Linked DNA regions of Homo sapiens. The protein of the gene in region 1 interacts with the protein of each later gene in a pairwise test. Each region holds a gene or a part of one and is shown on either strand. Other genes may lie near its edges. The genes, in order: GIMAP1, TM4SF19 and CLEC10A.

Region 1 (3,750 bases):
TCTCTTTTCTTTATAAATTACCCAATCTCGGGTATTTCTTTAAAGCAGCGTGAGGACGGACTAATACATTTTCTTCACTGCATTTATAAGGATACGGAAGAAAACAATGAACATGCAAAGACTGGAAAGAGAGGAAGGAAGCATTAATACAGGGTACAAAAGGAAGCCGGAGTTCTAGATATAATTCTGAGACTCAAGTGTAGTCAGGGTCTGAGCTTCACCTGGGTTTCCACAACTGATAGTAAGTATCAATGAATAATAATAGGCAACAAAGCCCAGAGACAGTGAGACATAATCAAGAGCTAATAGAAATGTAGAGGAAAATAAAGACAGAAACGGTTACTTTTCAATAGGAAGAAGATCCCAGAAAGCACCAGTAGGAAAGTGGAAATGTGGGACGGGAAGGGATAGTAGCCAATGCAAGTTGCATTAATGAGCACATTACCACTGTATACGGTGATGAGGATGTTCCCACTGCAGACAACTGGGTCTCAGTCCTGCTGGGGACTCAGCAATTTGTATGCAGTACATCACAGAGTTGTCTCACGTGGTGGACAACTTGATAAGTTGTGGTGTTTATCCATAAGTCCTAACTGACATTGATTGAAATCTGCTCCTAGGATATCAGCTCTGACAACTTCAGGCTGCTGCATGCATTACCTACATATACTTTTGTAGTCAGATAAACCCTCTGACAGAGAGTTATGAGTGGCTGAAGTAAGACATCATACACATGCATGGAAACAATAAATGGCCCGGAGCTGTTGAAGAGGCTCTGAAAGCGTCTTTATGAAAGGTACACGTCAAGTATCAAAGACTTATTCAAAGCTGATCTATGTGGCTTGGGCTAGGATGAGGCTAGTGAGAAGCCCTAGGCACCTCACTCTTAAGAAAACACTCACTCCCAGGGTCACCCACCTACAAGATCTGCACTTGGGTGACCTGAGAGTGAGTGCCTCCTTAAGCTGTGTGCTCTAGATGCCCCACCTGCCTCACAATAGCCCCAGCCCTGCCGGTCTACTGGGAGAATGACAGGCTCCCTGTTTCAGCAATGATGAATGGAAACAGTGGACATGTCAGATATCCAGGAGACTCTGTGCCCCCAAAAAGATGGGAAACAGTAAAAGCTGGGTCTCTTCCCTACCAGAAAAAAAGTGGTCTGGCATGAAAGAGGTTAAAAAGCAGATCCTATCCAGTAGGGTAAGACTCGGGTTATTGTCTTCCCCATATACTCCAGAAAGCCAACTCCAGAAAGTTTAAATGAGTTAGGTGAGGTCCTATAGCTGGTTAATGACCTAACCAGATATGCAGCCTGCTCCTCTGTAGCCTTCTTACCACCCAGTGATTCGCTTTTTTGCTGACCTCATGATGCTCTTGAGAGAAGATAGAATAACTAGAACTGGTGATACCAACATAGACGACTAGACTAAAGCCTCCTAATAAGGCTAAATTGAAGATAGTGCGAAGGTGTTCATCCTCAACATACCAGTTCACCCTCAAGTCCTTCAATAGCTGGGAAAGCCCTCCTCTCTCAGAGAATGATAAGACTTTGCCTTCAGGTTTTTCTGGCAGACTGGATCTGGGGCTGGCACTGGCCACATGAATGTCTAATTAATGGACAGATGATGAGAACAGCTATTACGTTATTTGTTCCGGGGCAGGAGACTCTCTGGGCCTATTTTATATGGGGAAATGTCCCTATAGGGCAAAGGCAACTGAAGATTAGCTCAGTAATCAATTTTAGAAGTACAGTCAGGCCTCAGAGACTACAACATCCCTCCCTTCTTAGAGCATGGCAAGATATTTGACATCATGAGGCCCTGCTGGAGACACATAACCTCAGTCACAGCAGAAAGTAGAGTCGGTAGGAGAAGTATTGCCAACCCACAGCTCAATGGGAAATGTTTCTGTCTCTTTAAACCATAACCATGGGGCCCACCCTGAGCTTCCTGATTTCTGAAGTCTGAGTGATTTCCTCCGTGTGCCGAGAGGAAACAGCCTTCTGCACTCACAGCCGAAGGGAAAGCAGCAGGTTGGGGCTTCTTGTGGCCAACTTCAGAGCCTGTCACCAGGAAAGGTGAGCCTGAGCCTGGGAGTGGCGGGGGCTGGGGGTGCTCTGAGAACCAGAAAGAACATGATTCCTAGAGTGTTTACTGCCTGAACACTTGCATTCTACAAGGCATCATGCAGGCGAGCAAGATCTGGAACAATCAAGGACATACTTCCAGGTTTTTAAGTAGGCAAAGTTCAGAGGAAATTTTAGGATCATCTTCTCCAGCTCTGGAGCACACACGTTCTTGGTGGGGAGTGAAATCTGTCTCCTCCCACATTCCCTTAACAAAGTAAGAAAAGAGTGTGCTGGAACCACCTCCAGGAATAAAATACAGTTTGAAAGGCATTAAACATTCCTCAAGCTCCCTATTGAGCAAAGGCAAAAGATATTTCTATGGCCCCATAAGCCATCTAACCTCGGAGTGAGTTACGACGTGACAAGACTGGGTACATTTGAACTCTCCTCCTCACTGTCCACAGAAGGGGCCCCTGAGGAGACATCTGAGATTAATATCTTGGTCTTCAACCCCTTTCCCTGCATGGCCCCTTAAACATCTGCTCCCTTAATTCAAGCTTCTCCTGCTCCAGCCACGGGGACACCTCAAATTCCCATCTGTACAATAAAGGGGGTTGCAAAAATGACTGATGTCCAAGTTCTGAGCTGTGGACATCAGAAACATTTAATTCATGAATCAGAATCTCAGGATGGATCCAAGAGATGTACATTTTTAAAGAACATTCAAGTAATTCTGAGAAGCAGCACATTTGAGCGGTGAAGAACTCAATAAACTTTGCGGTCTCTTAAAGTGTTAGGAATACAGGATTCTATAAGTGTACATTCCTCAATGATTAAGGGCCATTTGTCACCTCAGAGTTCAGCTGGGTCTTACTTTCCTTTAAAAAAAAAAACTATTTAAAATCATTTCAACCCCTCTTCTAAACTATGGAAAATTCCAAAGGCCTATCCAGAATTCTGCAGCACTGGAAAAAGAAATTCTCATTTTCTTGGTTGACAAGGACATTTTGCTTCATCTAAATTCTTTTCTCTGAATCTTGCAACTGTTTCTTCATTTCTGCTTTGATGTCATTTATGATCATCTGTTCATTCCTACATGCAAAATAATTAATCACATAAGGCCCATGGAGTGAATTTTATTGAAGGCTTTGGGGAGGGCCAGTAGAGTTCCTGCAGAAACAGAAACAGCTCTAGATTTAATATGAGGCAAATCTGTTCTCCAAGTCCTTCAATCAAAGACAAGTTACTCAGCCAGCCTCTCTCTCTGCCCCTCCTTCATGTGTGGTGCCAATGGGAGAGAACACAGGTATCCAAGTGACCAGGGTGCAAGACACAACAAGTTTGACATGGATGGTGAGGCACAGACAGATGGTCGGGGAGGATCAATAGTCCTAGGAGGGGAAGCCGAGTGGGTTGGAAAGGCCCTGAAATCTGCTGATTGTGAAGTAGCTGACCGAGTGGGGTATTGTCTGGGAATGAGGCTGGAGACATAGATGCAGGGAGAAGTGAATTTGTGTTCAGGAGCTTGTGTGATTAGGCAAACTGGATCACAGAGGGTTTAGCTGTATTACACAATGTTAGATTTCAGCATAATCACATTTGGAGGGGAAGCAACTTCAGGAGTTGAAGGGAAGTGTTCAAGTCTCTCCAGCACAGATATCGTATTTAGACATCTCTAAACA
Region 2 (3,750 bases), on another chromosome or scaffold:
TCAAACACAAGGAGATTACACTAAACACCCACCACAATGCCTAAAATTAAAAATGTTTGTGAGAATGTGTAGAAACTGGAACTGTCACACACTGCTGGTGGGTGTGTAAATTAGGACTACTTTGGGAATCTGTTTGGCAATATCTGCCAAAATTAAATATTCACCTGCCCTATGATAGCAATCCTACTCCTAAGAATATTCCCTGGAAAAATTAGTGCATAGTTCCTTCAAAAGACATGCAGAAGAATATTCATAGCAGCATTATTTATAACAGGCAAAAGTTGAAAATATAAATGTCCATTAAGAGTAGAAAAAGTTGTAATATCCAATGTAATAATACTCAGCAATAAAAGAAAAATAAATTACATGATGGATGAATCTTACATATAGAATATTGAGTGAAGAAAGCCACACACAAAAGCCATACTGGGCTGGGCGCGGTGGCGCACGCTTGTAATCCAGCACTTTGGGAGGCCGAGGCAGGAGGATCACTTGAGCCTAGGAGTTCGAGACCAGACTGGGCTACATGGTGAGACCCCATCTGTACACGAAATTAAAAAATCAGCTGGCGTGGTGGCGCTTGCCTGTGGTCCCAGCTACTCAGGAGGCTGAAGTGTGAGGATCACTTGAGCCTATGAAGGCAAAAGGCTGCAGTGAGTCATGATTGTGCCACTGCACTCCCGCCTGGATGACACAGCAAAACCGCCTTTTTTTTTTTTTTTTTTAAAGAAAACTGTTTGATTCCATTTATGTGAAATTCAAGAACAACTAAAACCTAATCAATTATTATAAGAGCCAAAATGAAAGTTAACACTGGGGACAAGGGATACGAATGACAGGCGACACAATGAAACCTCTGGGGATTTGGAATGTCCTGTATCTTGATTTCTGTGCTGGTTCACCAGGGTATACATGTAAAAATTCATCAGACTTTAACATTAAGATTTGTGCACTTTAGGCTGGGCGTGCTGGCTCACACCTGTAATCCCAGCACTTTGGGAGGCGGAGGCGGGTGGATCGCCTGAGGTCGGGAGTTTGAGACCAGCCTGACCAACATGGAGAAACCGTGTTTCTACTAAAAATACAAAATTAGCCAGGCGTGGTGGCACGTGCCTGTAATCCCAGCTACTTGGGAGGCTGAGGCAGGAGAATTGCTTGAAGCCAGGAGGCAGAGGTTGCAGTGAGCTGAGATTGTGCCACTGCACTCCAGCCTGGGAACAAGAGTGAAACTCCGTCTCAAAAAAAAAAAAAAGAAAAGAAAAGATTTGTGCACTTTACTGTATATAATATCTAGATGTTTAAAATGCAATGGGAGCATAGAGAAAGAAGTACCTAACTCGGAGTAAAGAAATCCTGGCAGACTTCACTGGGAATGTTTGAACTGAATCTTGAATAGGAGCTTGTCCATAGAGGGTCACGGATCTCCCACACAGAGAGCACCACAAAATCCTCAGCAATTTGGTGAGAGTATGGTACAAGATGATAGTGGCCTGGGGCTTGAACAAGAGGCTGAGTGCGGTGGCTCACACCTGTAATCTCAGCACTTTGGGAGGCTGAGGCGAACACCTGAGGTCAGCAGTTCGAGACCAGCCTGGCCAAAATGGCAAAACCCCGTCTCTATTAAAAATACAAACATTAGCCGGGCATGGTGGCAGGTGCCTGTAATCCCAGCTACTCAGGAGGCTGAGGTGGGAGGATTGCTTGAGTGTGGGAGGCGGAGGTTGCAGTGAGCCGAGATCATGCCACTGCACTCCAGCCTGGGTGACAGAGTGAGACCCTGTCTCAAAAAAAAAAAAAAAAAAAAGTTAGACGTCTAGTACAGGAACCATGCAACACATCGAGTCAGCCAAGGGCAAGGTAAGGAGAGTGATGAGGAAAAAGGGGTGGCTGCCCTGCTCGGTGCTGTTCTGTCAAAGAGCCGAAATTCTTCGCGGGGTGGCAGATGAGGACAGGAACAGCTGGGGTGTGGCAAGTGTTGCTGCCTGGGGAGAGCGGAGGGTGAGGTGTTTCTCACGGGTGCATCCAGTGACTCATCAGGACAGCGGAGCTCATGAGGCCATGTCTCCCGTTTCCTGCCTTAGAATCACATGAAAATGAGCAGAGGGTGGGTCATCAGGACAGGGCTCTCCGGGGAGCGGAAGCGCCTTCAATGCAGGCCTGTGGGCAGGGGCGTGGGGGCGCGCACACACACACGCCTGGGTGACCTCTACGTATATACAGAGCCTCCCTGGCCCTCCTGGAAAGAGTCCTGGAAAGACAACCTTCAGGTCCAGCCCTGGAGCTGGAGGAGTGGAGCCCCACTCTGAAGACGCAGCCTTTCTCCAGGTTCTGTCTCTCCCATTCTGATTCTTGACACCAGATGCAGGTAAGCAGAGATGAAAGGGTGAGGTGACGGCCAGGGAACAGCCTAGCCTCACAGATGAGAGTGCACGCTTCCACTCCAGTGAGCCTGGCTCTGCAGCTTGGCGTCTGTGTGACTTTGCGCCATTCACTTACCTTCTCCTGTTGCCTCAGTCTGTCAACTTCTGGCCTTTGCACCTAGAATACTCTTCCTGCCTAGTATCTCATCGTCCATCAAGTTTGGGCATGGGCAGCCCTTCCTCCGGGAAGCTTCGTTTTGCTTCTGCCAGATAGGATTAGGTTCCTCCATGTGCTTCCATGACACCTTAAGTTGGATGCCCCTGCCTGGTACTTACTGTTACCAGCTGTGAATCCAGCGAGTCTGCAGCAAACTCAATCCTTGCCTTCTCGGGGGAGAGATTCGGCTGAGGGGCAGAAGTGGGTTTAAGGCAGAGGGAGAGGCTGAAGCAAGTTTGAGAGCAGGAGTGAAGGTTTATTAAAAAGTTTTTGAGCAGCAATGAAAGGAAGTAAAGTACACTTGGAAAAGGGCCAAGTGCGTGACTTGAGACACCCAAATGTGCTGTTAGACCCTTGACTTGGCGCCTGCCTGCCGCACAGGCACTTGGGAGGGGCCGCATGCGCAGTGTGTTTACTGAAGTCGTGCGCATGCTCACTTGAGGCGTTTTTCCCTTACCCGCGGAGCAGCACTAGAGGAAGGTCACACACACCAGCTAAACTCCACCATTTTGCTTCTTAGTGTAGATGCTTGAGCCCACTCGCCCAATTCCTGAGCTCTTACCAGGAAGCTGCTGATCACCAAGTTCAGGTATTTTCTATCTATTGGGAGACTGTCTTTCCCAACGCTGGCTGTGACCAATATTATTTTAGAAAGACAGTGTAACAACCGCCTGGCCATCACCTGATAGTCACCTGACATTACTGGGGTAGAGGCCCTCTCCCGCCCTGCTCATGTCTGCTCTATTTCTTACCACACTTGATTAGAATTACTTTTTGGCCAGCCTGACCCACATGGCGAAAACCCATCACTACTAAAAATACAAAATTAGCCGGGCGTGGTGCATGCCTGTAATTCCAGCTACTTGGGAGGCTGAGGCAGGAGAATAACTTGAACCCGAGAGGCGGAGGTTGCAGTGAGCCAAGAGCATGCCGCTGCACTCCAGCCTGGGCAACAAGAGCGAGACTGTGTCTCAAAAAAAAAAAAAAAAAAAAAAAAAAAGAATTGCTTTTTGCGTCAGCAGTGTCCCCACTAGACTTTAAGCTCCTCAAGGAAAGGGATTACATCTTTTTCATCGTTATATCCCTAGCCCCCCAAGTGTCTGTCAGGTAGTGATCACTTAATAAATATCCGACTGAAGGAAGAATGAAAGAAAAGCCTTGCTGGGTGGCGAG
Region 3 (3,750 bases), on another chromosome or scaffold:
AACCCACTGAACCAGACTGAAAAAAAAAAGTTAGTGAATGGAGAAATATCATGTTCTTTTCATGGAAGATTCAACAATGTCAAAATGTTGATTATCTCCAAATTAATATGTGAATACACTGCAAGACTGTGGTAGACACACAGAGAGCTACCCAGGTCCCCCTTCTAGGAAGGATGTGGTGACCCACTGTGGGGAGTGTAACCTGCAGACAGCTGCTTCCTGAGGTCACACCCATGTCAGGGCTGACTGCCAGTGACCGAAGGAGCTGGTGCTCTACAGGACCCTGTGGCAGTCCAATGCTGGACAGCTCCCGGGGGTGGCATTGTTTGAACCCAGAGCTCCCTGTTGGTTTGGTTGAAGCTCTCCAAAGTGCTGGGCTTCTCCCTCTGCCCAGCACCATTTCATCCACTTTCCTTTTCGAAGTGCTAATCCCTAATAAATAGCTTGTACCCCAAATTCAGCCTCAACCTTGGCTTCCAAAAACCGAACCTGCGACATATACTAATCAAAATACCGAATACCAAATAAAAACAAAACTGGCAACGACCTGGCCGGGTGCGGTGGCTCGCGCCTGTAATCCCTGCACTTTGGGAGGCTGAGGCGGGCAGATCATGTGAGGTCAGGAGGTCAAGACCAGCCTGGCCAATATGGTGAAACCCCTCTCTACTAAAAATACAAGAATTAGCTGGGTGTGGTGGCGGGACCTGTAATCTCGGCTACTCGGGAGGCTGAGGCAGGAGAATCGCTTAAACCCAGGAGATGCAGTAGCCGAGATTGTGTCACTGCACTCCAGCCTGGGCAACAGAGTGAGACTCTGTCTCAAAAAAATAAATAAATAAATAAAATAAAAAAGAAAAGAAAAAGAAACAACTTAAATTTCTGATTTATTTCTGTCAATAGAGAAATGCTAAATAAATAAATTACGGTGCCTATGATGAAATGAGGTGCAGGTAGATCAAGTACATTTTATAAACTGATGTGGAGAAATGTTCCTGATAGCTTGTTAACTCCAAAAAAAAAAAAAAAAAGCACATAGCAGAACACAACCCCATGTACATACAAAATATAACCTAAAATGTATTTCTTCTCCTTCTCCACCTTGTAAGATACTCAGTTTCCTTCCTACTGAAAGGGATGTGCGCGTGGATTCAGGGCAGCTCCCTTAGGGGTTGAGCAGGGATCATGGGATGAAATGGAATCCTGTTCATGAAGACAGCGCCTGTGCTGAGAGCCAGAGCAGGGTGCCAAACTGTCTCCTTACAAGCTGTGAGTGATCTTGGGCTCTGAGCCTTTAGTCCGTCATCCAAAATGCCTCCCCAGGTGCTTGGGGGGAATGGTTGTGGAAGGTAAATGTCTGGCATAATCCTATCACAGATTACTCAATAAAATTTGCTCTTTTCCTTGGCTTCTCCCGTCCTATTAGGGCCAAGAAGTTCTATTCTCTGGCACCCCCTTCCCTCCTTCCGAGTGGAGTGAGGCGAGCGAGGCCACAGCTGAGCAGCCGAATGACTGGGACCCAGAGGATGCTGATGCCAGGGACTCAGGCCAGGATTGAGCAAGAGAACAGACTGGGCTTCTCTAGGATCAGAGGTGCGATGATGGAGACCCAACAATTCTGGGAAATGTAGAGGCAGGAAGTGAAAGGAAGTGTAGGGTAGAGGAGCAACAGCAGATTGTACCTCTGATCCAGCCCTGCTCCCAGATGGTAAAAATGAGGAAGCTCCGAGAAGAGGAAAGGAAGTAGGCATGGCCTGGAGGAGGAGAACAGAGCTGGCCTCAAACCCAACTCTCCCCACCCACACATGGTCTCTGTGTGTTCTAATCCCTGTTCATTCTCATTTACTGTCTAAAGTTGAGGAGATGGGATGTCCCAGATGATAGGGCTCCTGGGATTTCAGACCCAAGACCAGCAGGACTCCAGTCACCTCTACCCCAGCTCTCCAGGACACAGCGCTCCCAACTCTGAGTGACGTCCCACCTCTGGTCCTTGCAGCACAACCAACGTGGGAATCACACCCTCCAGACCTCCCACAGGTAATGGTGCTGCCGGTGCCGGTGAGACCCAGGGGACAGGGGATGTCAGAGGAAGCAGGGAGAGGGGGACTTTGGGTCTTGGGTGGGACTAAATGAAAATAAATATAAGGCGGCAGTGTGGGGTTTAATTACTACGTGGAGATTTGAGACTCTGTTCCCTTCACTGGATTCTAGATTGGGTTACGGCAGCCACAATCCCCTGTCATAAACTAAGACTCCGGGAGCTGAGGCAGGAGAATCTTGTGAACCCAGGAGGCAGAGGTTGCAGTGAGCCGAGACGGCCTCGTTGCACAACAGCCTGGGCGACAAGAACGAAATTCCATCTCAAAAAATAAATAAATAAAAATAAAAATAAACTAAGACTCAGACTCAGCCTCATTGGTGGCCCATTTCCAGCCTTATCTTCATCTCAGCCCAGCCATGCCCTAATCCCAATACTAACCCCAGCTTCTACATTTTCTTTTTTTTTGAGACTGAGTCTCACTGTGTCGTCCAGGCTGGAGTGCAACGGCACAACCTCGGCTCACTGCCACCTCTGCCTCCTGGGTTCAAGTGATTCTCCTGCCTCAGCCTCCCAAGTAGCTGGGATTACAGGCGCACACCACCACACCCAGCTAATTTTTGTATTTTTAGTAGAGATGGGGTTTCACCATGTTGGCCAGGCCGGTCTCAAACTCCTGACCTAAAGTGATCTGTCTGCTTCGGTCTCCCAAAGTGCTGGGATTTATAGGCGTGAGCCACCGCACCTGTCGCCCCCCACCCAGCTCCTACTTCAACCCCAACCCCAGAATCAACTTGAATTTTAACACCAGCCCAAAGCCAAAATTGAACCTCGACTCTATTCTGTTTCCAAATTCACCACCAAAGTTAACCCCAATTCCATCCATGGCTCCAACGTGCATACTGACCCCAATCCTAGCATGAGATACAACCTCCAGTCCTGCCTGATTAACTGGCCCACTGGGTAGTCCTAGCAATGCGTTTAGCTCCAACGTTACCCTCCAGTTTCACTCCCAAACTCAACTCGACCCCAATTCTAACTCGACTGCAAACCCAGGCTCATTTCCGTCTTAACCCTGGGCTCATTCTCAACCTGAGCCTCATCTCCCAACTCAACGTCAGCCCTGCCCTTGGCTCCAACTTAGTCCCAACCTCCTATTCCCCAGCTCCACCCCAGACTGGGCGCCGGCCCTGCCTCCATTTCAGCTGTGACAACCTCAGAGCCGTGTTGGCCCAAGCATGACAAGGACGTATGAAAACTTCCAGTACTTGGAGAATAAGGTGAAAGTCCAGGGGTTTAAAAATGGTAAGAGGAAAGGGGAAACTCTCCTAAAATGCCCTCTTTATATGTTTAGAAGGATTTCTCCTATCATTTCTGTACCTCCACCACGCGCACTGGTGGGTCCTAACTCTGAGGAGGTCAGGCCCCAGCCTCTGACGGGCCTAGTGTGAAGAGGATGCAAGGTCTCTAGAAAGACTGGGACAGGGAGGATCACAGTGGACCCAGCTTCTGATGCTCTGTGGGGTGGGGATGAGAGCTGCGCATTGGTGGAGGGAAAGATAAGTAGTTGGGTTTGGAAGGAAACTCATTTGTGAACCTGATTGTCCAGCAGGTAGGTGAGCATAAGCCCATGAAGGGCTGGCTGCCCCCAGCTCTCCCTGTGTCCTCCTGCCCCTGCCCCCAGCTCTGACCATGGGACCCCTCATATCGCTATC

The links.
Region 2: the proteins of GIMAP1 (region 1) and TM4SF19 interact in binary tests that used the Homo sapiens proteins (3 or more experiments, as listed by UniProt).
Region 3: the proteins of GIMAP1 (region 1) and CLEC10A interact in binary tests that used the Homo sapiens proteins (3 or more experiments, as listed by UniProt).

The regions. Positions count from the first base shown.
Region 1 is NC_000007.14:150,714,614-150,718,363, forward strand, and holds the start of GIMAP1 (GTPase IMAP family member 1), read left to right. Parts: upstream 1-1,999; 5' UTR 2,000-2,077; intron 2,078-3,750. UniProt on the Homo sapiens protein: May regulate lymphocyte survival. Required for normal levels of mature T-lymphocytes and mature B-cells.
Region 2 is NC_000003.12:196,336,879-196,340,628, reverse strand, and holds the start of TM4SF19 (transmembrane 4 L6 family member 19), read left to right. Parts: upstream 1-2,240; 5' UTR 2,241-2,365; intron 2,366-3,750. UniProt on the Homo sapiens protein: Negatively regulates vacuolar (H+)-ATPase (V-ATPase) activity by interacting with members of V-ATPase V0 complex and hence inhibiting V1-V0 complex assembly. Required for multinucleation during osteoclast differentiation.
Region 3 is NC_000017.11:7,078,336-7,082,085, reverse strand, and holds the start of CLEC10A (C-type lectin domain family 10 member A), read left to right. Parts: upstream 1-1,834; 5' UTR 1,835-2,034; intron 2,035-3,200; 5' UTR 3,201-3,273; coding exon 3,274-3,340; intron 3,341-3,750. UniProt on the Homo sapiens protein: C-type lectin receptor involved in recognition of N-acetylgalactosamine (GalNAc)-terminated glycans by myeloid antigen presenting cells (APCs).